Linked DNA regions of Homo sapiens. The protein of the gene in region 1 purifies or fractionates together with the protein of each later gene. This does not show direct contact. Each region holds a gene or a part of one and is shown in the gene's direction. Other genes may lie near its edges. The genes, in order: SMIM5, COLEC12, PCDH10, LEMD3, RET, SLC44A5 and ANO6.

Region 1 (2,736 bases):
CGTAGCCATCTCAGCGAGAACCGGCTGAGACCTGGGACAAGGCAACGATAATTACAGCCAAAGGTCTGGCACCAGCCCCTGGCCACCTGTCCCCACCACCACCCCTGGATTAGAGCAACTGCCTTGGTGAACTGGATCAGGCTGGGTTGGGACAAGGTTGTCTCTGGCTCCTCTCTAAAGAGGCACCAGCTCCCTCATGCCCACAGGAGAGGCAGAAGGGGAAAGCCTTCTGGAGTGGCACCTTGGGCCTCTTGGGCACCCTGAGACAGGAAGAGGCTCTCCTGGGGCAGGGGTGGGAGTGGAGAGGACTTTCCTGGTCAGGCTAGAGAAACAGATGACGCCAGCAGGGGAGGGGCTGGCTTGAGCAACCTGGGCCTCCTGACCCCCTCCCAACAGACAGGACAGAAACCCTGGCAAAACCTGGAGGGACACGGTGCGGCCTCCCCCTCTGGCAGAACAGGCATGAGTGTAGAAACTGGGCTGGTGGGAGAGGTTGGGGGGCCTGGGGGACAGGGGGGCAGTTTTCACCTCTGACTGACCCTGGCCAGAAGCCCCATGAACCTGCTCTCGGGAGAACCTGCTCCTTCTGTCCCCACATTGATGGAAGGCAAGAGTACCAGCTTGGCATCCTATCCCAGTCTCCCCACCCCGAGGGAGCTGTGCCAGTCCCAAGCACCCAGGCAAAACCCAGTAGTGGTACCTCAAGACAAGGGAATGGAACAGCGAAGCCAGAAACCACCACCAGCCGCCGCCTTGGCCGGCAGCCCCCGAAGCAAGCCCTTGGTCTCACTGTCCTCACCGGCTTCCTCCACCCTGAGCTGTGTCAGCTGGGTGGGGACTGAGGGCCACCACTAGGTGGAAGTCACCAGGGGTGCAATGTGTGAGACCTGACAAACTTGTTCTGCGGGCTGCGGATGGGTGCGAGGGTGGAATCTCGGTGCTGCGACGAGTGTGGGGCCAGCCGTGGAGGCTCCAGGTGTTCTCTCTGCCCCAGCAGAGCCCGGCAGGAGCCCCAACAGGAAGCCAGCGCGGCATGGCTGCCACCGACTTCGTGCAGGAGATGCGCGCCGTGGGCGAGAGGCTGCTGCTCAAGCTGCAGAGACTGCCCCAGGCTGAGCCCGTGGAGATCGTGGCCTTCTCAGTCATCATCCTTTTCACAGGTTAGTTGGGGCACTCAGCACCCCATGGCTCTCCCTGGCATCTGGGAGAGACCACACCATGGTGCCAGCCAGAGGGCTGGCAGAGGTGGCGGGTGTCTGCCGGATCAAGGAGGAAAACCAGTTGTCCCTTGGGGGAAGCCAAGGGACTTCCCTCATCCTCTGATATGCTGCTTGGGTGATGGGCGGTGCTGGGGACTGGGCCCAGCAGTACCCCGGGATCCCAAACGCGGGGATGACGGGAGCCAGGCTTGGGCAGTGAAAGAGAAGACACAACATGGAGGAGGTTGGCCCTGGCGGCTGGCATGGGGACCGTCCGCACCTCTCACCAGCCTCTCGGATCTTTCTGACCTCCACCAAACCTGTGGGGGAAAGACCCTGGCAGGCAGTGGGTTTCTCTGGGAGGAGGGTGGGCATCCTTTCTCTCCCCCAACCTGAGTCCCGTGCTCTCTCCCGGCCCTCCAGCTACTGTTCTGCTGTTGCTGCTGATAGCCTGCAGCTGCTGCTGCACTCACTGCTGCTGCCCTGAGCGGAGAGGCAGGAAGGTCCAGGTGCAGCCGACACCACCATGACGGACGGGCGATGGCTGAGGAGAAGCTGGAGAGGAGATGGCCAATGCCATGACACAGGCCATCAGCCTGGCCCTGCAGCCCTTACCCCTCAAGACCAGGCTCCCCTGGCCCCAGCTCTGGCCCAGCCCAGGTACCTGGACACTGACAACTTGAGCCCTACCAAGGAAACAAGGGCTGGTATAGGTGCAAACCTCTCATCTGCCAGTGGACACTGGGTGCTGGGGAGTCAGCTGTTTCAAAGACTGGGTCAACTGCCTGGGCTTCTTCGCCTACCTGCACTTTTTAACAAAACAAGGAAGTAGGGGTCCCCATACCTTGATGGAGAACAGTCCCCACCTGTGGGCAATTGGCCCTTGGGGCTCTGCTGATACATGCCAAAGAGGAGCAAGGCAATCAGAGGGGCTTTGTGCAATAGCTTCTGCATCCGAGCTCCCGCCAGAGCGTGAGCATGTCAGTATTCTAGTCCAGTATTTGCCAGTTTCCAAGTAAAAGCTTTTGTGTTACGTGTTTCTGCGGTGCCGGACTCCCTGAGGTTGGGCTGGGCTCTGTACATTGGGAGGGGGTATGGCTGGTGCCCGTCCTTCCCAGGCCTCTGCTCTCCCTGTGCCCACGAAAGCTGGAAAACCACGCAGAGAAGCATGCCACACAGGCGGTTAACACCACGGGACCAGTGGACGGTGCCATGAAATTCCTGTCATGCATTAGCTGCTAATGAGCTCTGCCAGGCTGAGGCACTACTCTGCAGAGTGGCAGAGACTGTGTTTGCCCAAAGGCAGGAGCTAAGCTCAGGAACAGCACTTTACTCTGTCAACTGCCTGCACCTTTGGCCTGCACATCCCACACTAGCAGACTCAGACCAGTGGGTCTTCACAAACTGCCAGAGGAAGGCCCTAATGTCACCTGTAACCTGCCTCCTGACCCTGTGGCCCTCCCCCATTTGTGTGCTGTCTGGGCTCACACCCTCACCCTGTCAGCTGCGTGACTCAACTTCCCTAAGCCGAACTCCC
Region 2 (3,500 bases), on another chromosome or scaffold:
AGGAGTGAGTTGTGCTCCACGTGGGGAAGTATTAGTATTGGTTGCATTCCAGCTGCCGTCACTGCTATCATCATAAAAAATGCAGGGATAATTCCCAAAGTGAAGTTTGTAATTGTAGTAATGAAACAGTTTTTCTATTTGTTATAGTAGTGGTAGAAAATTGATAAATATGTGTAAGTATATTTAGATTACCTAGGAGCACTGTTTTTTTTTTAGTACTATTGCTCACGTGCCTACTGATGACATGATATTTTTAAAGATCTGTGTTTCAAATCCAGTGTCCGGTTTTATCCAGTAAGGATATGACATCAAGGAATCACAACATTAAACAAGTTTGTCTCTAAATAAGTATTCGGACAGATGTATGTATAAGTATGTTTTTAAACCATATGATGTCATGTCTATTTCATCAGTAGTATTAGTTTTCCATTAAGCTGTCATATTTCTGTTTTATTATTTATAATTGGGCCACCAAGTTCTAACTAGCCTTCATTTATTCTTTAAACAAATATTTGGTATTAACTTTCTGTGTGCAAGGCCCTCTAGAAATGCCAAATAAAATGAATAAAATATAGCTTCTGTGCTCATGGAGCTTGCAGTCTGGTAGACAAGACAAGACTTATGCGTAAACAACTGGAATCCAAAGTAGAGAGTAGAACATGCCCTGTTTGAGGTTCAGATAATCTGGCTGAAGACAGGGACATTTTCATTTGCAGGAGAGATTTGAATTATAGTTCATATTTCAGATTACATTATATTTCATATCTTGAATTATATTTCATATTACATTAATAGGGCAAGCAACATTAAAGAAAAATGTCTTAAAAGAGAGGAGGGCTGAGCCTGATGACTCGTGCTTATAATTTCAGTGCTTTGGGAGGCCAAGATGGGAGGGTTGCTTGAGGCCAGGAGTTTGAGATCAGCCAGATCAACACAGCAAGATCCTGTCTCCACAGAAAATTTAATGGGTGCGGTGGTGAGTGGCTATAGTCCCAGCTACTTGGGAGACTGAGGTGGGAGGATCCCTTGAGCAGTGGCACAGTCTTGGCTCACTGTAACCTCTGTCTCTTGGGTTCGAGCGATTCTCCTGCCTCAGCCTCCCAAGTAGCTGGGACTGAGTACAGGTGCGTGCCACCATGGCCAACTAATTTTTGTATGTTTTGTAGAGACAGGGTTTTGCTATGTTGCTCAGGCTCGTCTCAAACTCCTAGCCTCAAGTGATCTGCCCGCCTCAGCCTCCAAAGTGCTGGGATTACAGGCATGAGCCACCGTGCCTGACCTGAAATCTCTTAAGTGTGACATTTCAGTGTGGGAGGTGAGAGGAAACCAAATTCAGAGTCTTCTTGAATTGTGTCTCTTAAACTCAAAACGTTGGTCCAACATTTGTAAATAATTATAGTATATTGCTTTGGCATAATTGTTTAGATAATCTAAACAACGTTAATGGATTTCAAAACAAAAAGACGTATCGGTGTTATTTTTAAACCAAAGACCTCTTTTTTTTTTTGTCTCCAGAGAAATGGACAGCATTAGTTTTTCTTGCCAAATCACCCATGTATTTGAGGCCCTGCCAAGGCCCTTATTCAATTTAAGGCAGAGATTCAAGGCCTCATTCTGACTCTCTTATTAACATGATTAAAATGACTGGATGAGAATTTTCCTCATAGAAGAAAGGGAAGTGCATCACCTCCACCATAATCACCTATGAATGATGAATGCAGATGTCAAGGTTTTGGATGTCGTACTTACTGATTACTTCTAAGTTCTTGCAGTTGGTGGCTGTGGGGAAATCTGATTTAGCCCCCACTGCCAACTTAGGGGTAAAAGTAACAAAAACACCCTTTCTCAGTTTTGTTAGACTGTAAAGGAAGGAATAGGGTACCCATGCCTCTTTATTCTAAAAGCAAGTATCTGCCATTTTTACAAGCATCAGAATTGCAAGTTGTGCCAGAAATTGGAGTCATTTTATGTCTATAATTTTGACTTTTGACTTGAAAAAACTGTGCAATTGAATCAAAAGTGATCCCATTGTTGCAAAACAAATTCAGTAAGCAGCTGAGTAATCAAAATGAATCTCCTGTGATACTTTAAAATAATCTACAAGTATTTAAACTGCTACAGATTCCTTCATCCATTTGGAGTGAAACAGTTGAATGGAAGGCCGATCTAATTACCCCCCTACAAAATATCCTGAACCTCAGATACTTTGTTACGCTGCATTGAGTTCATTCACCAGGAGAATACATAATAACTGTGTTCCAGAAATGCCAAGACTGGAAAAAGGAAACCATGCGGGGAGCCAGGTTTACATTTGTAAAGCTATAAAACCAGGGCAAATATTACCGATACTGTGCTTAGGGACATATCAAGATAAAAGGACACCTTTCTTCAGTTTTTACAGCCCAAAATACGTTAAGATAAATTTTCATCAATATCAACCAGGTACTTCAGTGCCAATTTGCTGAAGCCCAAATAGAACCTGCAGCACGCATTACTCTTTTGCTCATCAAGCTTTCCTGTTGGTCCTTCCCCCAAATAGTCACCTCAGAATGGAGTTTTGTGTCTTTTGAAGCCAGATGATTAAAGTTCTAGGATATTTATTTTGGACCTTAAGGCATAGTAGCTTTTACCACTGCCTCTGTCCTCTTACTTCAAAGAAAATTCATATTTATTAAGCAGATGGTATGTGTTGGATGTTTTCCATGTGTCAGTTCACATTTCCCTCCCCAAAATGTGTGAGATAGGAATCATTGGTTCCAGCTTATAGGAGACTGAGAGGCAGACATGAGCTTATTGCTATTACAAGGTGGAGCCAGTCTTCAAACCCAGGTCTTTGAATTTCAAAGCCCACACATTACCATTAATTCTATCAGCCTCTGGTGTTAGGAAAGAAGTCTTCCAGATATCACAGCAACATCAAGGGGACATTCCAAATATTTAGCAACCCAGGTGACACACTGTGGAAGCCACCATTCCCATATGAAAGCAACTCCTTGGAGCACTGGTCAGTGGAGAGTGACTGTAGACTCAGGGGTCCTGATGGCCCCAGGGATACAGGGGCAAGGACCTGCTACAGTGGGTGGTGGTGACAGTAGAAACAGGGACAGCTTGCAGAAATGCTCAGAGCAGAGGCCATTGTTCTTCAACCAGCTGGTTTGGAAGCACTTAAATATTTTAACAACCAGTGATACCATACCATTTTGTTCTAAGAGTAATGACAAATGTACAAGAGCTGGGAATGGACCCTGGTCTAAACACGATAGAGCAACCAATGGGTACTCATATGTAGACAGCGCCAGTGGGCCAGCATGGAAGAGAAGTCTAACTTCAGCCTAGTCCCTGTCCACGGTCCTTCAGGCTGGCTCCTAAAAATGTCTGCATTTGCTATGATGTTTGGTTTGGCATTTGTTGGAAACCTGCTTTGTGTCAAGTATTGAAGGCTCCAGCTTCAAACTGCGTCTTCTGTGGTTTCAGGTTGAACTCCACACTCTGGCTCTTTG
Region 3 (3,500 bases), on another chromosome or scaffold:
TAACTCTTATTACTAATACTAAAAGGAAACTCTTACATGAAATAAAATATGTATGTTAAAATGAAAATGATTTAATAAACTTCTGGTGTCCTTCCTAATTTTTTGGTTTTCATCTTTGAAGGGTGTTTGTTGAATATTTTACTTTTTCTATCTAGTTTTGTGTTTATTTGACACATGAAGAAATAGAAAGGCTAGTCAACTTTTCTAACTCCTGAAAATGTCGATCTTAGACTGTCTTTGGGTTCAACTCTCTTGAGACTGGACCTTTATTTTACTTAATAATATAACCATAGAGTGATAGGTTCTCATTTTCAAGGTGATATTAGTCCTCGAGAGCACCCATTCCTTAACACACTTGTGGACCTCTGGATGGTGCTGAGGCAGTGTGTCAAAGGGCAGCGTACACCCCATGGTGGCCTGGCAGCAGTGGTTGCTACAAGCCTCTCACTTGGCTAATGTGTGCTGTGTCTGTGGCTGCCTTAGCCTTGGGAAACCCAGGCAGGAGGAAGGGAAAAAAGGCTGCTCAAGGGTCTCTTTATATTGCTGTGAGTCATTAATATGCAGGCCTAATGAGACTTGAGAACTGCCAAGAATCCCCGGAGGTCTCTGCCCCTTGCGGGCCTTCACGCTAAGTGAACAGAGCATCTATTTAGTGTCTGGGAACCTGACAACAAACCAGATCTTGCCAGAAGTTTATATGTGCGTACAAAGTCCCTTTCATTTTTGCCCTATATATGGCATATGATTTATTGTTATCTTTAAAAACTGTACATTTAGCATTGCTCATTCCTGTTCTTTTTCAGAGTTTCTAATTTAACTGTCAACCTTTTAAAACTTTTAAAACAAAATGTTTAATGTTTTAAAGAGTATCTGTTGCATGTTTCTTTGGATGCATTTTACTCCTTTCCCACCCCACACGCCCCGCTTTGTTTTTCCTGTAGCACTTCAATCTCAATGAACATTTCAATTAGTTTAGTCCCTCAGACATAATGACCCATAATAACCTAACTGAAGAAAGAGAAATGAATAAACATCTGCAAAAGAGCCAAATTTGGAAGATAGATGAGAACATATTCTTATCAGTGCATCTTCCCAGTAGCTACTTTATTTCACAGTCACTCAGTGTTACCATTTCTGTAATGTTTCTTTCAAATTATTGGAGATGTCAAAGCATTTAAAAGAATACTAAAATGTTAAAATGTGTTGTGGAAAACATTTCAGCCAGGCAGTTTTTGTTTTTATCAAAATGTTAAAATTTTTTTGTATCTTTAAGTTCTTAAACATGTAAAAGTGTTACAGAATTAACAATCCTTTTATGTATCTTATTAGTAGTTACACGGCAGCCACAACATACTGGGCACAATAATAGCTATTTTAGGATTGTAATAAAGCACTTATGTTAAGAAGTGATTGCACCTTTGTGTGCTGAATTGCAATCAGATTTAATGTCTAATTTTATTGTAAGAATAATTTTGAAGTGTTTTCTTTTTTAAGTATAAAACCTCAAATGCAGAGAATTAAAATGCATTTGCTTAAAGACTTTTTTCAATCCATACTGCTGTTATGTACTATAAACCTCACATCAGGCAGCTAGACTATTTCCAAAAATTTAAGCCCATTTCAGATAAATCTGTTTTATTTCATTGTAAAGCCAGATATTAATGATTTTCCAATTTTGCAAAATTAGGTAATATTACTCATAGCATAGCTTTCTAAGTTCAGGATAGGAAAAAAACCTTGTGTTATAATAAGCAAATCTCACTTAACTAGGTTTTAGTAGGGAAAAGTTAGATTATCAAGCAAAACTAACATTGGAAAGATAGAGACTCCGAATTCTCTCTTTCAGTTTGTACCATATTCCACACTATAGTGTACAGACTATTTAGCTTAGTGCTTCACCTGTTTAAACTTCCTTTTTCTTTATTCCTATTTCTTTTTCTACATTAACATTATTCTGTATTATTTATTTAGATATGCCTTCTATTTATTCTTTTATGAATAGTTTTCTTTTTTTGTTCTATCTTCCACCCCCTCCTTCTTGCTTTTCTTTTTTCTAAGCCATTTGCCGTCACCAATGTTGTTCATAGAAGGGCTTTAAACACGAAGGCAGCTGCACAGAGAATCACATAAGCTTTTTCAGTTTTCCACTGCACCTGGCTCCATGTGTGAAATTCTTCGCCTTGACCACTGCTCTGTGGCACTTTCTTTCTATAGCCTTGTCAAGGTGCTTCCCGTTTTTTTCAGTGAACTATTGATGTATTGGTTAGATATGGCAGTAGTCCAAGGAGAAGTGGCAAATGCAGACATAAACCATCACAAGAGGAAAAACTGATTAATCACAGCTTAAACAGCCAAAGAATTGGACTTTAAAGAAATATATTTTCAACTTTATTATATCATTAAAGCATAATTATTTCTTCTATTTTAGGATACAGATAGAATATTTTAAATTGTATATTCTTAAACATTTTAATATTATTTGAGGTATATCTAAAGTGATCTGTTTAGTAGTGAGAGGTTGCTTTTCCCGTTATAAAATACCTACATTGTCAATAATGCTAAGCTTAATTATAGATTTATTTTTAATACCTTGTGCCTTTAAAAAAATATGTTGAAGAGATAATCCTAATAAGTGATTGAATTACTTGTTAGACATTCTCTGAAAATTGTCAAATTTCTCTTCAATAATTTTTTCTTTCAGTTATAGGAGAACTTATCTTCCAAATATGTTTAGTTTCTAACTAATTATAGATATAATGCATGGTCAAAATTTGGCTATGAATTTTAAAAATAAAGTGATTTGATTGGTCAATAATTTCAAATTAGTAGATAAAATATACCATTGAAATGCATTAAGCCAGTGCATTACTACAGTGTCAGCAATAGAATTCTTGGTTTATTATAAACACAAATACCTATTTCCAAACTCCATTAAGAATTTAGATAATTGCCAAGTTTGATTTTGGGTTTATATATAAAATGGATTTACACCAGTATTTATAAAACCTTATTCACTGGTGAAACTTTGAGCTGCAACTTGAAAATGTGCAGAGATTTATAACTGGAGGCAATATAGAAGATGAAATATTGAGAGGAAATGGTGAAAAATATATACATTTTGAAAGATTATTGGTAGGGAGAAAATTTTGATGGGCATATTTTGATTTTTTTCATGAGTGAGTTATGTTAATAACTATCTGCTTCAAAACCATGTTTTTCTAAAACATACTGCAATTTTTGTGGTTACAATTAATGTATTTTAAGTCGTTAAAAGAGGACTAGAAATCTCAAAAAATGAAAAGTTTTATATCTTCTTTAAAATTAATTTATCATATTTGGAAAAAAATAAACGCTTTGAATGAAAGCTTGTTGCACAAAAAGAAATGTTCACGCAATATTGTATTATGACAGTCACCGAAAAAGTAGCACAAATTGAATTCTAAAATTTTTGAAATCACAATTTGGTCTCAATGGAAATATCCACTGCCTGTGAGTGTACA
Region 4 (3,136 bases), on another chromosome or scaffold:
TTATCCCTCTTTGTCCAACCTTTCAACAGGTCATGTCATATCTACTCCATAATATGTCCTGATTCTATCCGCTTGTCACTTGCACTGTTGGCCTGTCTTACCCACATCATTATCCTCTCCTTCTTAGACAACTATAATATAATAATAACCTTCTAACTGGTCATCTTGCATTCACTTCTGCTTTTACCTGAGTCTCCACATAACAATGTATTTTTAAAATATGTAGTTTTAAAAGACAGATCTCATCCTATTCTACTCCTTAAAACAGTTGAGTGGCTATTACTCTTACCATAATGCCCAAATACTTTTTTGTAGCCTACATCATCTTAAATAATCTGACATCTTCTGTAGGTTTATCTCTATTCTTTCTACTCCAGCCACATTTGCTCCTTCGTGCCCCAGGAGCTGTGTACAAGCAATCACCTCTGCTTGAAATCTTCCTTTACACACCTCTCTTCACCCTGCTAATTTTTATTCTTCAGTTCCCACATAAATTTCACTTTTTCAGGGAAGTTTTATTTTCTCATATGAGGTTAAGTTACTTTTAAAAAGCTTTTTGTACTTTTTTTTTTAAGGACTTAATCACAGTTGTACTTTCTTACATGACACTCTTTATCATCTGTCTCTCCCATTAAACTGTAAACTCTTTGATAGCAATGACTGTCTTACTCACCTTAACATCTAACCAGGGGTCTGGCTCCTAGTAAAAGCATGCAGTGAATATTTTTTGAATGAACTGAATGATTGAATACCTTTCAACAAACTAGAACAATGTCAAATAGTAAAACTAACTTGTTTTTTGTAGCATTTCATTTAGATAGAAGAAATTCACCACCAAATAGTTTGACACCGTGTCTAAAGATTCGGAATATGTTTGATCCCGTTATGTAAGTATTATGATCAGGGGTACATGTAACTCTTATTCTGAATATTTGGCTGGAAAATGCATGATATTCTTATAATGGTGTGTCTGTAATTGAAAATGTTTTTCTTCTGAATCTCTACCACAGAAATGTTATGTTTTTCTCTTTCATTAAATTCCAAGCAAAGATTTGGCCAAAGGACACTAATGTATAAAGATTTGTAAAACTTTTATAAATCTTTGTATTCCTTATGAATCGTCATAGCAGATAGATAAATGCTTGAGGCAAATTAATGACTCACAATGACAAAGAGTACCCTTTATTAAATGTGTAAGTCATTATACATGACTGTCAATATTTTTGCCTCAGTAGAAAATATAGATACAATCACTGCTGCTTACAAATTTCAAATCTCAAATTGTAAAAAGTTTCCTACAAAGATGTATATACCTGCTTCTCTACAAAGTCCTGTCTCCACTTGTCAATATAATATTTGAAGAACTTTTCAGACTTTATAATTCCAACAACATATGCTTCCAGAGAATAGCACAGTCAAAAGTGACTGCCTTAGAATTCACAGTATTTCATATATAAGCTGTAATAGTTCTTAGAATTAGCTTCCTGAGGGCACTGCTTATCTATCCAGTGATAGTACAGATCAAATTCTGTTTGTTTTAAAAGTCCCAACAGTGGCAATTACAATATGTATACAATACCCCCAAAGTCTCATCTAATCACTCATTGATGAAATTCCAAATAAGTGACAGCAAAATTGGAAATGTGAGGAAGCAGTATGCACACGTGTTTGCACGTGGGCACGCGCACACACACACACACACACCCCCCCCACACACACAGAGACAAACACCGCCTCTATTTTGCAGAGATAGAAACAATTAGTAGTGTGATGATACCTCTGTTGGGAATCTTACCTCATGCCTTAGGAATTGGCAAGTCCACTATTTTATTACCTAAGATGAAAATTTGTGATTTGAAGTGAAGTCACTTTCCTCTCTCTCCTGCCATCTTTGTCTCACAAGCAAGACAAATGTCCCTTACTACAGCAGAAACACCTTAAAACTGTCATTATAGTAAGGTGACTGTACAAAATGTTAGTCCTGTATCAATTATTTTGGAAAAGAGAAGCTCAAATGTAGTATTTACTAAGAATTTTCTTTAGGAATTTGAACCTATCATTACAATTAAAGAAAATAACATTCGGCTGGGCACAGTGGCTCACACCTATAATCCCAGTGCTTTGGGAAGCCGAGGTGGGTGGATCACTTGAACTCAGGAGTTCGAGACCAGCCTGGGCAATGTGGCAAAACCCCGTCTCTACAAAAAATACAAAAGAAATTAGCCAGAATTGGTGGTGTGTGCCTGTAGTCCCAGCTATCTGGGAGGCTGAGGTGGGAGAATGGTTTGAGCCTGGGAGGCACATATTGCAGTGAGCCGAGATCACGCCACTGCACTCCAGCCTGGGTGACAAAGCGAGACCCTGTCTCAAATAACTAACATTTAACTTTTACAACTTTAATAAGTTCACAACTCATTTAAAGTACTTATTAACAATAGAAAGAAAACAGAAATTACTGTAAGTACACAGGATTTTTAAACATAGGAATGACCCAATCCATTTATTCTGCAGCGGTGGGCTAGTCTTTCATTGCCTCAGCTCTCTGCACTCTTTTTTTTTTTTTTTTGAGACGGAGTCTCACTCTGTTGCCCAGGGTTGAGTGCAGTGGCGTGATCTCGGCTCACTGCAAGCTCTGCCTCCCAGGTTCACGCCATTCTCCTGCCTCAGCCTCCCGAGTAGCTGGGACTACAGACACCTGCCACCACGCCTGGCTAATTTTTTTTTTTTTTTGTATTTTTAGTAGAGACGGGGTTTCACCGTGTTAGTCAGGATGGTCTCGATCTCCTGACCTCATGATCCGCCTGCCTCGGCCTCTCAAAGTGCTGGGATTACAGGCATGAGCCACCGCGCCTGGCCAGCGCTCTGCACTCTTTTACTGGAAAGTGGGAGGAGGGCTGAGACTTCTGAATTGTAATTTTTAAATCTACCTCCTGTTAGTCAACAAGCATTTACTTAATACCAATTAAAATCGTATGTGGTTTTAAAACTATACCAATTCTAGTAATATATATATGTTGTAAGAGACAGTGAAGAATTTTTACCGAGTAGGAATATGGTTGTTGATTTTTGTTTTCATTAACTTTTAGGGAAATAGGGGATCAGTGGCATTTGGCAATTCAAGAAGCAATTTTAGAAA
Region 5 (3,500 bases), on another chromosome or scaffold:
GGAGTGGGGAAGGCATGGACCAGCTTCACCCTGAGTGACCCAGCAGTAAATGGTTGCTCCTTCCAGATAACATACAGGACCTTGGGTAAATTTGAATTTTGGGTAAACAACAAGCAGTTTTTTGGTATAGGTGTGTTCCATGCAACTTTTGCAGCTTCTCGAAAGACACACCTCTAGGTCCATCCATGCCCTCTTAGGAACATGCTGACACAGCTGCCATTCATGCCATTCATTGTGTATCTGAAATGTAGGTCCCACAGGGCGTCGTTGGCTGAATCTGGCTGCACTCACATCCTTCCTCCTGTACTTACCCCAGCCCAGGTGACCCCTGCTTTGTGACCATGATGTCCTGTACCCTGCCCTGCGCCCTGTGCTCCTGGCACTGTCTTTGCTGCCCTGGGTCTGTCACTCCGGTCCCCTTGGGCTCCATCCGTGGGCAGCTCAGCTGGTGCTGTTCCCTGTCCTTGGGCACTAGCTGGACGCTGGGCCCAGGCCAGCCCCCTGTGACCCTGCTTGTCTGCCACCTGCAGATGTGGCCGAGGAGGCGGGCTGCCCCCTGTCCTGTGCAGTCAGCAAGAGACGGCTGGAGTGTGAGGAGTGTGGCGGCCTGGGCTCCCCAACAGGCAGGTGTGAGTGGAGGCAAGGAGATGGCAAAGGTAAGCCCTGGAAACGCCCAAGGGAGGCCTGCAGGGGCGATGGCACCGGTGGAAACGGGGTCCTGGGGCCCTGCCAGCCTGGGGTGGCTCTCCCTGCTCCAGGTCTGCTTCTGGCACCTCATCCCCCATGTGGCTCTCGATGCCAGCATAGCGGGCAGCAGTGCAGGGCTTGGGAGAGGGCTTGTGAGTACAGTGAATGGTCCCCAGGCCGGATTCACTCTGGACTTGGGAAGGTCTGAACCAAAGTTGGGATGTGCTGGGGACAGAATGGCGTTTTTCTGGGAGGTCCTCGGCCAGGGGATGTGGTGTGGGCAGGGGACTCATTGTCTGCATCAGCCAGAGGCCAGCCTGGGTGTGCCCACCACCATGAGGGGCCCTCACCATGCAGCCCTGAGAGGGTCCCGGCCTCTTTGCTGTAAGGGCCACCTGTGTGAGGAACCCCCCATACCTCCTCTCCCATAAGCCATGGCTCCCCAGGATGCTTCCGCTGGCAAGGCTCTGTATATGGTGTTTCCCTACTCAGGCCTCCAGTTGCTCCTCCCTAGAGGGGCAGGATCTGCCTAGGAGGTGGTGGGGGCGTGTGGCGGGGCTCCCACATGGGTGACAGCCTGCTGTGTGTCCTGTGCAGGGATCACCAGGAACTTCTCCACCTGCTCTCCCAGCACCAAGACCTGCCCCGACGGCCACTGCGATGTTGTGGAGACCCAAGACATCAACATTTGCCCTCAGGACTGCCTCCGTAAGCAGGGTTTAATCAGGGCATGGGAACAGGTAGGAGATAGTAGGGGAAACCTGGATCCCACAGGCACTTCAGCCAGAGTTGCCAGGGCTGTCAGTTCTATGCATCAAGCTGAGCCTCCTGTGCATTTCAGCATCACCCTAGCCATGGGGAGGGAGCAGGCAGGGTCAGGGACAGGGGGAAGGCAGGGACCCACAGACTGTCCAGGCCCCTGCTGAGGTCCCAGAAGTCGGCACACACAGATTTCAGAAGCAGAGAATGGTCAGTAGGGACACTGACAGGGAAAGTGCGGCCCTGAGCCAGACGAGGGACACTGCAATGTGCGGGTCAGGCCACCAGGCTCCAGTTTTGGAGGCAGAGTCCTTTGTTCAGATGAAATGTTAGGAGGGGGCCTGGCTTCACCCATGGCTTCAGAAAGGCACTGTGACCAAGCCCTGCCCGGCTAAGCCAAGCTGCTGGGCCCCTGGCCTCACTGGGCCTATGCTTGCGACACCAGTTGGGGAGGGGGCTCCTTGGGACACTGCCCTGGAAATATGGGCGCCTGGGGTGGTCAGGCGCCCCAGGAGGCTGAGTGGGCTACGTCTGCCCTCAGGGGGCAGCATTGTTGGGGGACACGAGCCTGGGGAGCCCCGGGGGATTAAAGCTGGCTATGGCACCTGCAACTGCTTCCCTGAGGAGGAGAAGTGCTTCTGCGAGCCCGAAGACATCCAGGGTGAGTGGGTGGCGGCCGGGACCACCACCACCTCCCAGCCCCACAGAGGTCTCAACAGCACATCTGAGGTCCCAACAAGGGAGGAAATTGCTGGGAGGCGAGTGGGCCCCATGAAACTTCCCTCCCTCCCTCTGGGCCTCTGTTACTCCACCCAGGAGAGGGGCCAGGGCCCCTGTAAAGTGTCTTCTGGCCATAAGTTCTATGATGGACAGGCCAGAAAAGCAGTTCTTCCACCAAACAACTTGTCAGCCTGACAAGTCACTGTCCCTGTGACCATGCAGCTGGGACCCACCCAGGAACACATTTCAAGGTCAGCAGGTATGGTGGGTTGCACAGCCACACTGACTACACTCAGGGGTGCTGTTCTGCCTGAGCATAGGGACACGTTTCTGTCATTGAGTTTTCTGGTATTATATAGCCCTACGTCCCTAGCCACTTAGCATTTTCATAAAGAAAATGCCAAAGACATTTGGAACAGAGGAAAATTTTGACCTCCCCTGCCAGCCCTCCAGTGCCAGCTGGTGTAATGAGCACAGCCTCTGCTGTGTGACCTTGGCAGGCTGCTCAGCCTCTCTGAGCCTCTGTCTCCATCTGTAAGAGGGCAATAGTGGTCTAGGAGGGGGCAGTAAATGGCAGTACCCATGCTCGATGGGGTGTTCTCAGGCCTTCCCACACCTCCATGGCCACTTCCCAGCTGGCGCGGACACGGCAGGCTGGAGAGCCATGAGGCAGAGCATACGCAGCCTGTACCCAGTGGTGCCGAGCCTCTGGCGGTGCCAAGCCTCACACCACCCCCACCCACAGATCCACTGTGCGACGAGCTGTGCCGCACGGTGATCGCAGCCGCTGTCCTCTTCTCCTTCATCGTCTCGGTGCTGCTGTCTGCCTTCTGCATCCACTGCTACCACAAGTTTGCCCACAAGCCACCCATCTCCTCAGCTGAGATGACCTTCCGGAGGCCCGCCCAGGCCTTCCCGGTCAGCTACTCCTCTTCCGGTGCCCGCCGGCCCTCGCTGGACTCCATGGAGAACCAGGTCTCCGTGGATGCCTTCAAGATCCTGGTGAGGGTCCCTGCGGGGCAGGGAAGATCCCCTGCCCTCCCCAGCTGCCTTCCAGGGAGGGAGGCCAGCTGGGGAGACAGAGGCCATCCTGTGAGGGGCTGCCAACGCTGGGCAGACGAGGCCTGTGTTCTGCCCCCATTTCCATAGGGCGCTGTGTGGGGACAGTCTGTGGGGTGGGACTGTGATGAGGTGCCGTTCCCATCTAGGTGAGAGGCAGTGGTCAGGGTCACAGCATCGGGCAGGGGAGCAGCAGTGTGGATGGAGGGGCACTGAAGTCAGAAGGGGGTGCCTTTCTGGGGAGCCTGGCCTGCAGGTCTGCATGTGCTACTCAG
Region 6 (3,500 bases), on another chromosome or scaffold:
GTAGATTTGTTTTATTTTGTCTCCACATGATACTGCTCCTTAGCAATAAGCCAAGAAAGCTCCTATACATTTTACTGTTTTTAAGGGGCCACTCAGTGCAGCTGGCCCACATTACATTAATCTAGGCCTGAAAAATAGATGAATATTATTAAAATATTAGGCATTTTTTAAGTTAATTTCTCATGCACTTTTGAGTTGTCAGTATTGTTTTCTTGTCCATTTATTTTCAATCTACCAGCAAATGGTTTATCCTTAATGGAGTTTATTCAGTTTCTTGGCGACATCGGGGGTACCTGTATACAAAGTCATAGCTCCAGGGGGGCATTGTATACATGAAAATCAAACCTGTGACCCAGAGGTAAGTACAAGAAACTCTTTCATTTACTTACTTCAATATAGACTTCTGCTGCAATTCATTTTGTAGTTGTGGTAGGAATTGTCCCGAAGCAGAGATCCTATACACTGATGGGGACAACTATGTGCTGAAGTGGGGAGTGTGCATCAGGTAAGCAGGAGAGTATGGAAAACAGTGGGTGGAATGGAGAGAAAGCACTGTATTTCCTGAGCTTGCCTGCCCTACCATATACCCAAGACCATAGAAAGTAGGTATGGTCAACAACAACACTGATAAATGTGAAATTATAGTGGGTGCAGATTATGAGCATTTGATGAAAAATGGGATACTTTCCAGCACTCATTAGATAATTATATAAAGTGATATAACAGAAAATAGAGGAGTAAGAGCAGGAGCTAACAGAGAAACAACAGGATATGCAATTAAGGGGAAGAGGAAAACACAGGGAGTTGTTATCTTGGAGTGATATTTAATATTATGTCCTTGTGTTCCTTTTTCTCAATGCAGATTTTTAATACAACTGAAATTGCCAAAGCTTGCCCTGGGGCTCTGTGTAACTTTGCTTTCTATGGTGGAAAGAGCTTGTACCATCAGTACATCCCTACCTTCCATGTATACAACTTATTTGTCTTTCTCTGGCTTATAAACTTCGTCATTGCATTAGGTCAGTGCGCCCTTGCTGGTGCATTCGCTACTTATTACTGGGCCATGAAAAAACCTGATGACATCCCACGATATCCACTTTTTACTGCATTTGGACGAGCCATACGGTAAGTTTCAAGTTGAAGCCTACACCTATCTTGTCAGTTACATTTAGTGTGCTTGTAATTCAGTCTTGGCTCATTAATTCAAGTGGCAAGGTACAAATGAAATCAAAGGTATGAATCAAAATTCATGGATGCCCATTGGTTTTGTCTGGTTTCATAGCCAGTTTTACAATCCCTACCCAAGCCAATTTCCTTCTAAATGCTATAGGTTACTAGAGAGAGAAAAAGATAGAGGAGGATACCAAATGAAAGATCAAGGATTAACTTGGCTCTGTGTCTCCATTGAGCAGTAAAAACATCCTATTTTATGATGATAGACTATTGGTGTCATTTATGCTGATAAAGGGTAAGACAGATGTATATGGTTTAAAATCCTCTATAGAGACTTTTATCAATCTAAATAAGAGAGTGCAAAAGTCTCTTTGCTGTTAATCCTTCTGCAGATACCTTTTACTTGTGAAAATTATTCAATTAGCATCCCCTTAAATAATAGTATTAAGTTTTAACTTATTCTCATTTTATTTTTGTGCAGATATCACACAGGATCCCTAGCATTTGGATCTTTAATTATTGCATTAATTCAAATGTTTAAAATTGTACTAGAATACTTGGACCACCGTCTTAAACGTAAGATTTCAGATGTCCTGACTTTTGTGAAGATAATAAATTGGGTTGGGGGTTGGGGGAGACCTGATGATTATAACTTGGACTAGGGTAGTAAGGATGAAAGGGCATATTTGGGACCCGTTCTGTTCTGAAGGAAAACCAGAGAGAGCTTGCTGAAGGAGTTGATGTCAGGGGAGGGGAGGGACAGTGGTGAATAAAAGAGAGAAAAGGTGTGTGATCCTATTTGTTAAGCTGTGGAAGCCAGAAGAAACAAATTTCAAAAAGGAGATTAAGAATTCTGTTTTGAGATGTTATTGTTGAGAAGCATGATGGAGATGTCAGGTTGGCAGTTCCAAGTATATAGTTCAGGTCAGGTTAGGCTTAAAATATAAATGTGGGTGTCACGGGCATAAATCTTCATACCTGATATATATTGTTTACAAACACATAAACTTTGCTTGGAATGTACCTTAAAATATTTTATTACTAATATTGGAAAAAGACTTGAAAAGGAACAAAAAAGCTGGAAGACTCATACTTCCTGATTTCAAAACTTATCATAAATCTACAGCAATCAAAAGAGTGTGGTACTAGCATAAGGACAGACATATAGAGGTAAAATAAAACAGAAATCCCAGAAACTAACTCTCACATATAAGACCATTCAATGGGAAAAGATCAGTCTTTTCAACTAATGGTGCTGGGAAAATGGGATATCCACATGCAAAAGAATGAAGTTCAACCTTATCTTACATTAACATACAAAAATTAACTAAAAATGGATCAAAGACCTAAACAAAAGCACAAAAACTATAAAACTCTTAGAAGAAAACATAAGATGAAAGCTTCATGACATTGGATTTGGTGATTATTTCTTAGATAGTACACCCAAAGCATAGGCAACAAAAGAAAAATAAATTGAACTTCATCAAATTTAAAAACATTTATTCAACAAAGAACACTACCAAGAGAGTGAAAAGACAGCCCACATGATGGAAGAAAATATTTCCAAATCATATGCCAGATAAGGAATTCATATCCAGAACATAAAAGAACTTCTACAACTCAACAGCAAAATAATAAGCAACCCAGTTCAAAAATGGACAAAGAACTTGAATAGATATTTCTCCAAAAATGATATACAAATGGCCAATGAGGACATGAAAAGATGCTTAATATCACTAGTCATTAGGGAAATGCAAGTCAAAACCACAATGAGACTCCATACACATTAGAATGGCTATTATATATATATAAAAACAAAGAAAAAAGCAGAAAATAACAAGTGTTGGTAAGAATGTGGAGAAATTGGAACCCTGTGTATTGCTGGAGGGAATGTCAAATGATGTAGTCACTGTAGAAAACAGTATGGCAGCTTCTAAAAAATTTTTAAATATAATTTTATATGACCCAGAAATCCTATATCTAGATATACATGAAAAGAATTGAAAGAAGGAACTCAAACAGATACTTGCACATCACTGTTCATAACAGCATTATTCAGAATAGCCAGAAGGTATAAACAACCCAAATTCCAATTAACAAATGAATAAACAAAATGTGTTATGTACACACAATCAAATATTATTCAACCTTAAAAAGGAATGAAATGATGACCCTTGACGACATCATGCTAAGTGAAATAAGCAAGATACAAAAGGGTAAATATTGTATGATTCCTCCTATTTGAAGCACCTAGGAGAAGCAAATTTATACAGACAAAAAATATAATGGAGTTTACTAAGAGCTGGGGGAATAGGGGAATGAGCAGT
Region 7 (3,500 bases), on another chromosome or scaffold:
CTCTGGGATCTACAAGGCAGCTTTCCCACTCCATGATGTAAGTTAAAAGGCAAAAATGAACTAAAAGGCCTTCTGTATACTCTGGTGTTGACAATAGCAAAGGGCTAACTTTCCTGACTGTAAGTTTCTTCCTCAGTAAAATGAAGGGAACATACTGCAAGATTACAAGCTCATTTAGGGTAAGAACTAGGTCTTTTGTTCACAGATGGATCCCAGTTATAAAGATACTCAGTTTTAAAGGAGCGAATGAATGAATGGACAGGACCTCTCTCACAGTTAATGTGTAAAGCAGTATAGATTAGCAGTTAATCTGTGTTAGCATTTCTGAGACCAAAATGCCTGCCCTGCCACTTTCTAGCTGGATGACCTTGTGAAAGTCATTTAGCCTTTCTTCCTCCATTTCCTCATCAATAAGCTGGGGATAAATTATTACCTACCTCCTAGAGTTGTTAAGAGGATTAAATTAATCCATTAAATTAATCCAAATGTTAGTCCCTAGCATATAATAAATACTATTATAAGTGTTAGCTGTTTTCATAATTACTAACAGATGTTATTATCAACCAGAAAAGATTAGTTCTTTGTCAGCAAAATACATGTTAGACCTTCTCATTTATCATTTTCTGCAACATAGACTTTTCTTCCTCATTTGGAATACGATTTTCAAACTGTCCCCTGGAATATCCCTGGGCTTTTAAAAAGGCATCTGTCAGGGTTGTTGTGACAATGGCAGTACCCCAGATGGTTGACATTTTTTTAAGGACTACATTCTGAGACCACAGCAACCCCTCAAATTCAAGAGTACTTCTCTAGCCGAGAACATCTCTCGTGAAATGAAATTTTTAAAATGTGACCACTGTAAATGCAGGGACATTATAACTAAAGCTGTTTAAACTCTGTCATTGAAATAAATTAAATACTATATTATATTGCATTATTACTTTGTTATATTCACTATCAATTTATCTGACTGTGTAAGACCAAAGAAAGTAAAGACTGAGATTGGTAATTGCTACTGTGTAGTACATGTATTTGTGGATAGAGACGATATTGAAATGTACTGAATAACATAATAAAACTAGGACACTAAACAGCAGCTTGATACACATGGAAAAGTAGAGAACAGGGAGCTGGGTGAGGTAAATACTGATCCTAAGAGACCCAATGTAGCCATCCAGCCTGAGAGTCCATGTGTTTTACTTTTGTGCCCCACTGAATTTAGCTAATTGCGAATAACAGGACATGAATTTTGAGGCCACTTGCAAATAGCTGTCACGAATATTAATTTGGGATGCCAGGGTTCTCTAACAGTTGACATTTGCTTTTGGCCATGTCTTTTCCACTAAAGCCTCTTCTAATTGCAGTGGTCCTGTATTCAGGCTAACAAATGGTCCCATGTGGTATTTGAGAGGGAGGTGTGTGAAGGTCAGGGCCTGTGCCCTGATTTGGCTGGGTGGTAATCTGGTTCTAGTGCCAGAAGAAGAAAAATGAGTCAGAAAAAAAGGCAACTGGATTTAAGCAGGAAGTTTTGTTTCTTGAATAAGCTAAGTGTGTAACATGATACCCAGCTTTATTGTTTGTTTTCTGTATGTTATCACAGAATAACTGCTGAACTGGGGGCAAAGAAGCCTAGGTTTTAGAATTGACCCTGCTGCTAACCAGCCAAGGCCTTGGTTTCCCCATTGTCCAAGGAGAGGGGTGGGTTATCACGTGTTCCTCTGGTGTGGTGATTTGGGCACTTGGGTGGCCCAATTTTTCATTGTGTAGGACTGCCCCACTTAAAGCATTTTAAGCATCTCTGGGGCCCTCACAGAGTCCCTGCAGTGCTCCCCAGGATTGTAACACCCAATCGTTCATCCCTGCCCACATTCATAAATGACCCCCAAGGAGGGTAGTACCATGCCTGGTTAAGAATCACTAAAAATTAGATGGTATTTCCACCCTTTCCAGAAGGTGAGGACCCCTTGTTCACAATTGACTATCAAGTATTTGTATCACATTTAAGAAGCAGATTTGTGAAAACACGATGATTATGGTGCTTACATGTTCCCTTCTGCGTCACAGTGCAAATTCCGCCGTCAGTCAGAGGATCCCAGCTGCCCTAATGAACGGTACCTTCTGTACAGAGAATGGGCTCATCCTCGAAGCATATACAAAAAGCAGCCCTTGGATCTTATCAGGTGAGGGGTTGTAGGGAGTACTCCAGGGGGAGGCACTCAGGGTGTTACCCCCACAGCATCTGAATGTGACAGTACTCATCAAGACTCTTGCCAGTGAAGGGAGCTGACCCAGAGTGCTGAGCTTCGTTGGCCAGGGTTTTTATTGAGGCTTAATTATGTGGGCATGATTAATTGAATCATTACCCATCTCCAGTATCATCCTCCCCCTGGAAGATGGCCAGTAATATGTGGCTCAAAGCTCCAGTTCTCCAATCACATGGTTGATCTTCTGGCATGGCCAGCCTCCACCCTGAGTCATCTCATTAGCACAAACTCTCTAGAGGTCCACCATGAGCCACTTCACTGGCATAAACTATCAGGCGTAGTCCTAGGGTCCCACTGTGAATAAAAAGGCACTCCTATCTCTCAGGAAGTTCCAAGGGTTTAGAGGTTACCCACCGCCCAGGAACTGGGATGCAGACCCACCAAATTCCATATTGCACAGAAGTAAATGTTAGATGTAGTTTCTATTGTATGGTAAGACATGTACATTTTCACTCTTTTCTTATGTCTGCCTCTAGGTTCTATTTCGTTGTATCTCACAAGATACAATGACTAGCTCAAGAGTTTTTCTTCCCAAGGTACCCTGTTGGTTTTCCTCCAGAAGCTTACGTTGTTTGGGCAGGGCTGAGGATTCTGGCTTGTGGGAGATAGACCAAGAACACCCAAACAAGCCAATAAAACATGAAAATAAATAAACAGAATTTCTAATGGAAGTGAAGAAAATAACAGAGCAATAGGATGGGAGGGCAGAGTGGGAAGTGAGTTGAGGGAGTTATCTTTGAGGAGGTGACTTTTAAGCTGAGATCGGATAGTGAAGAGGAGCCAGTGCTTTGAGGACTTGGCAGAAGTCCTTCTAGGAATAGGGGCAGCTTGTACAGTGGCCCTGAGATGCACACACATTTGGCAAGTTTGAGGAAACATCAGAGACCAGTGCTAGTGAGAAACAGAGCAAGACATGAAGTTAGAGGGGTGGCAGGAGCGCCGAAAAGAGTTTAGACTTTAATTGCAGTGAGAAGCAGTTGTAATATTTTAAATGTTTAAGTCATTGTATCCTATTCACGTTTTGCAGATAATGTGGAGAATGGATTATAAGGGGTACAGGGAGCAGGGAGACCACTAGGTAGGAGGCTGTTTGAGCCAGGCAGAAGACTGTGGGAGCAGATTTGGGATGTGTTTGGGGAGTCGGGTCGACAGGACTTGTTTATGGATTGGATGTGGAGAGTGACGAGGAGAGGAGAGTTAACTTCATGTCTGTCTGGAGCCACGTACCTGTTTTTT

Evidence for each region.
Region 2: the proteins of SMIM5 (region 1) and COLEC12 purify together in Homo sapiens (affinity purification with mass spectrometry; one large-scale study listed by BioGRID and IntAct). This does not show direct contact.
Region 3: the proteins of SMIM5 (region 1) and PCDH10 purify together in Homo sapiens (affinity purification with mass spectrometry; one large-scale study listed by BioGRID and IntAct). This does not show direct contact.
Region 4: the proteins of SMIM5 (region 1) and LEMD3 purify together in Homo sapiens (affinity purification with mass spectrometry; one large-scale study listed by BioGRID and IntAct). This does not show direct contact.
Region 5: the proteins of SMIM5 (region 1) and RET purify together in Homo sapiens (affinity purification with mass spectrometry; one large-scale study listed by BioGRID and IntAct). This does not show direct contact.
Region 6: the proteins of SMIM5 (region 1) and SLC44A5 purify together in Homo sapiens (affinity purification with mass spectrometry; one large-scale study listed by BioGRID and IntAct). This does not show direct contact.
Region 7: the proteins of SMIM5 (region 1) and ANO6 purify together in Homo sapiens (affinity purification with mass spectrometry; one large-scale study listed by BioGRID and IntAct). This does not show direct contact.

Annotation. Positions count from the first base shown.
Region 1 is NC_000017.11:75,639,169-75,641,904, forward strand, and holds the end of SMIM5 (small integral membrane protein 5), read left to right. Parts: exon of another isoform or gene 1-997; coding exon of another isoform or gene 998-1,033; coding exon 1,034-1,160; intron 1,161-1,622; coding exon 1,623-1,729; 3' UTR 1,730-2,236; downstream 2,237-2,736.
Region 2 is NC_000018.10:490,702-494,201, reverse strand, and holds part of COLEC12 (collectin-12), read left to right. Parts: intron 1-3,500. UniProt on the Homo sapiens protein: Scavenger receptor that displays several functions associated with host defense. Promotes binding and phagocytosis of Gram-positive, Gram-negative bacteria and yeast.
Region 3 is NC_000004.12:133,155,794-133,159,293, forward strand, and holds part of PCDH10 (protocadherin-10 isoform 1 precursor), read left to right. Parts: intron 1-3,500.
Region 4 is NC_000012.12:65,242,583-65,245,718, forward strand, and holds part of LEMD3 (inner nuclear membrane protein Man1), read left to right. Parts: intron 1-805; coding exon 806-887; intron 888-3,086; coding exon 3,087-3,136.
Region 5 is NC_000010.11:43,111,569-43,115,068, forward strand, and holds part of RET (proto-oncogene tyrosine-protein kinase receptor Ret isoform a precursor), read left to right. Parts: intron 1-530; coding exon 531-656; intron 657-1,284; coding exon 1,285-1,395; intron 1,396-1,987; coding exon 1,988-2,107; intron 2,108-2,911; coding exon 2,912-3,168; intron 3,169-3,500. UniProt on the Homo sapiens protein: Receptor tyrosine-protein kinase involved in numerous cellular mechanisms including cell proliferation, neuronal navigation, cell migration, and cell differentiation in response to glia cell line-derived growth family factors (GDNF, NRTN, ARTN, PSPN and GDF15).
Region 6 is NC_000001.11:75,216,115-75,219,614, reverse strand, and holds part of SLC44A5 (choline transporter-like protein 5), read left to right. Parts: intron 1-270; coding exon 271-358; intron 359-862; coding exon 863-1,125; intron 1,126-1,654; coding exon 1,655-1,749; intron 1,750-3,500.
Region 7 is NC_000012.12:45,348,595-45,352,094, forward strand, and holds part of ANO6 (anoctamin-6), read left to right. Parts: coding exon 1-37; intron 38-2,064; coding exon 2,065-2,180; intron 2,181-3,500. UniProt on the Homo sapiens protein: Small-conductance calcium-activated nonselective cation (SCAN) channel which acts as a regulator of phospholipid scrambling in platelets and osteoblasts.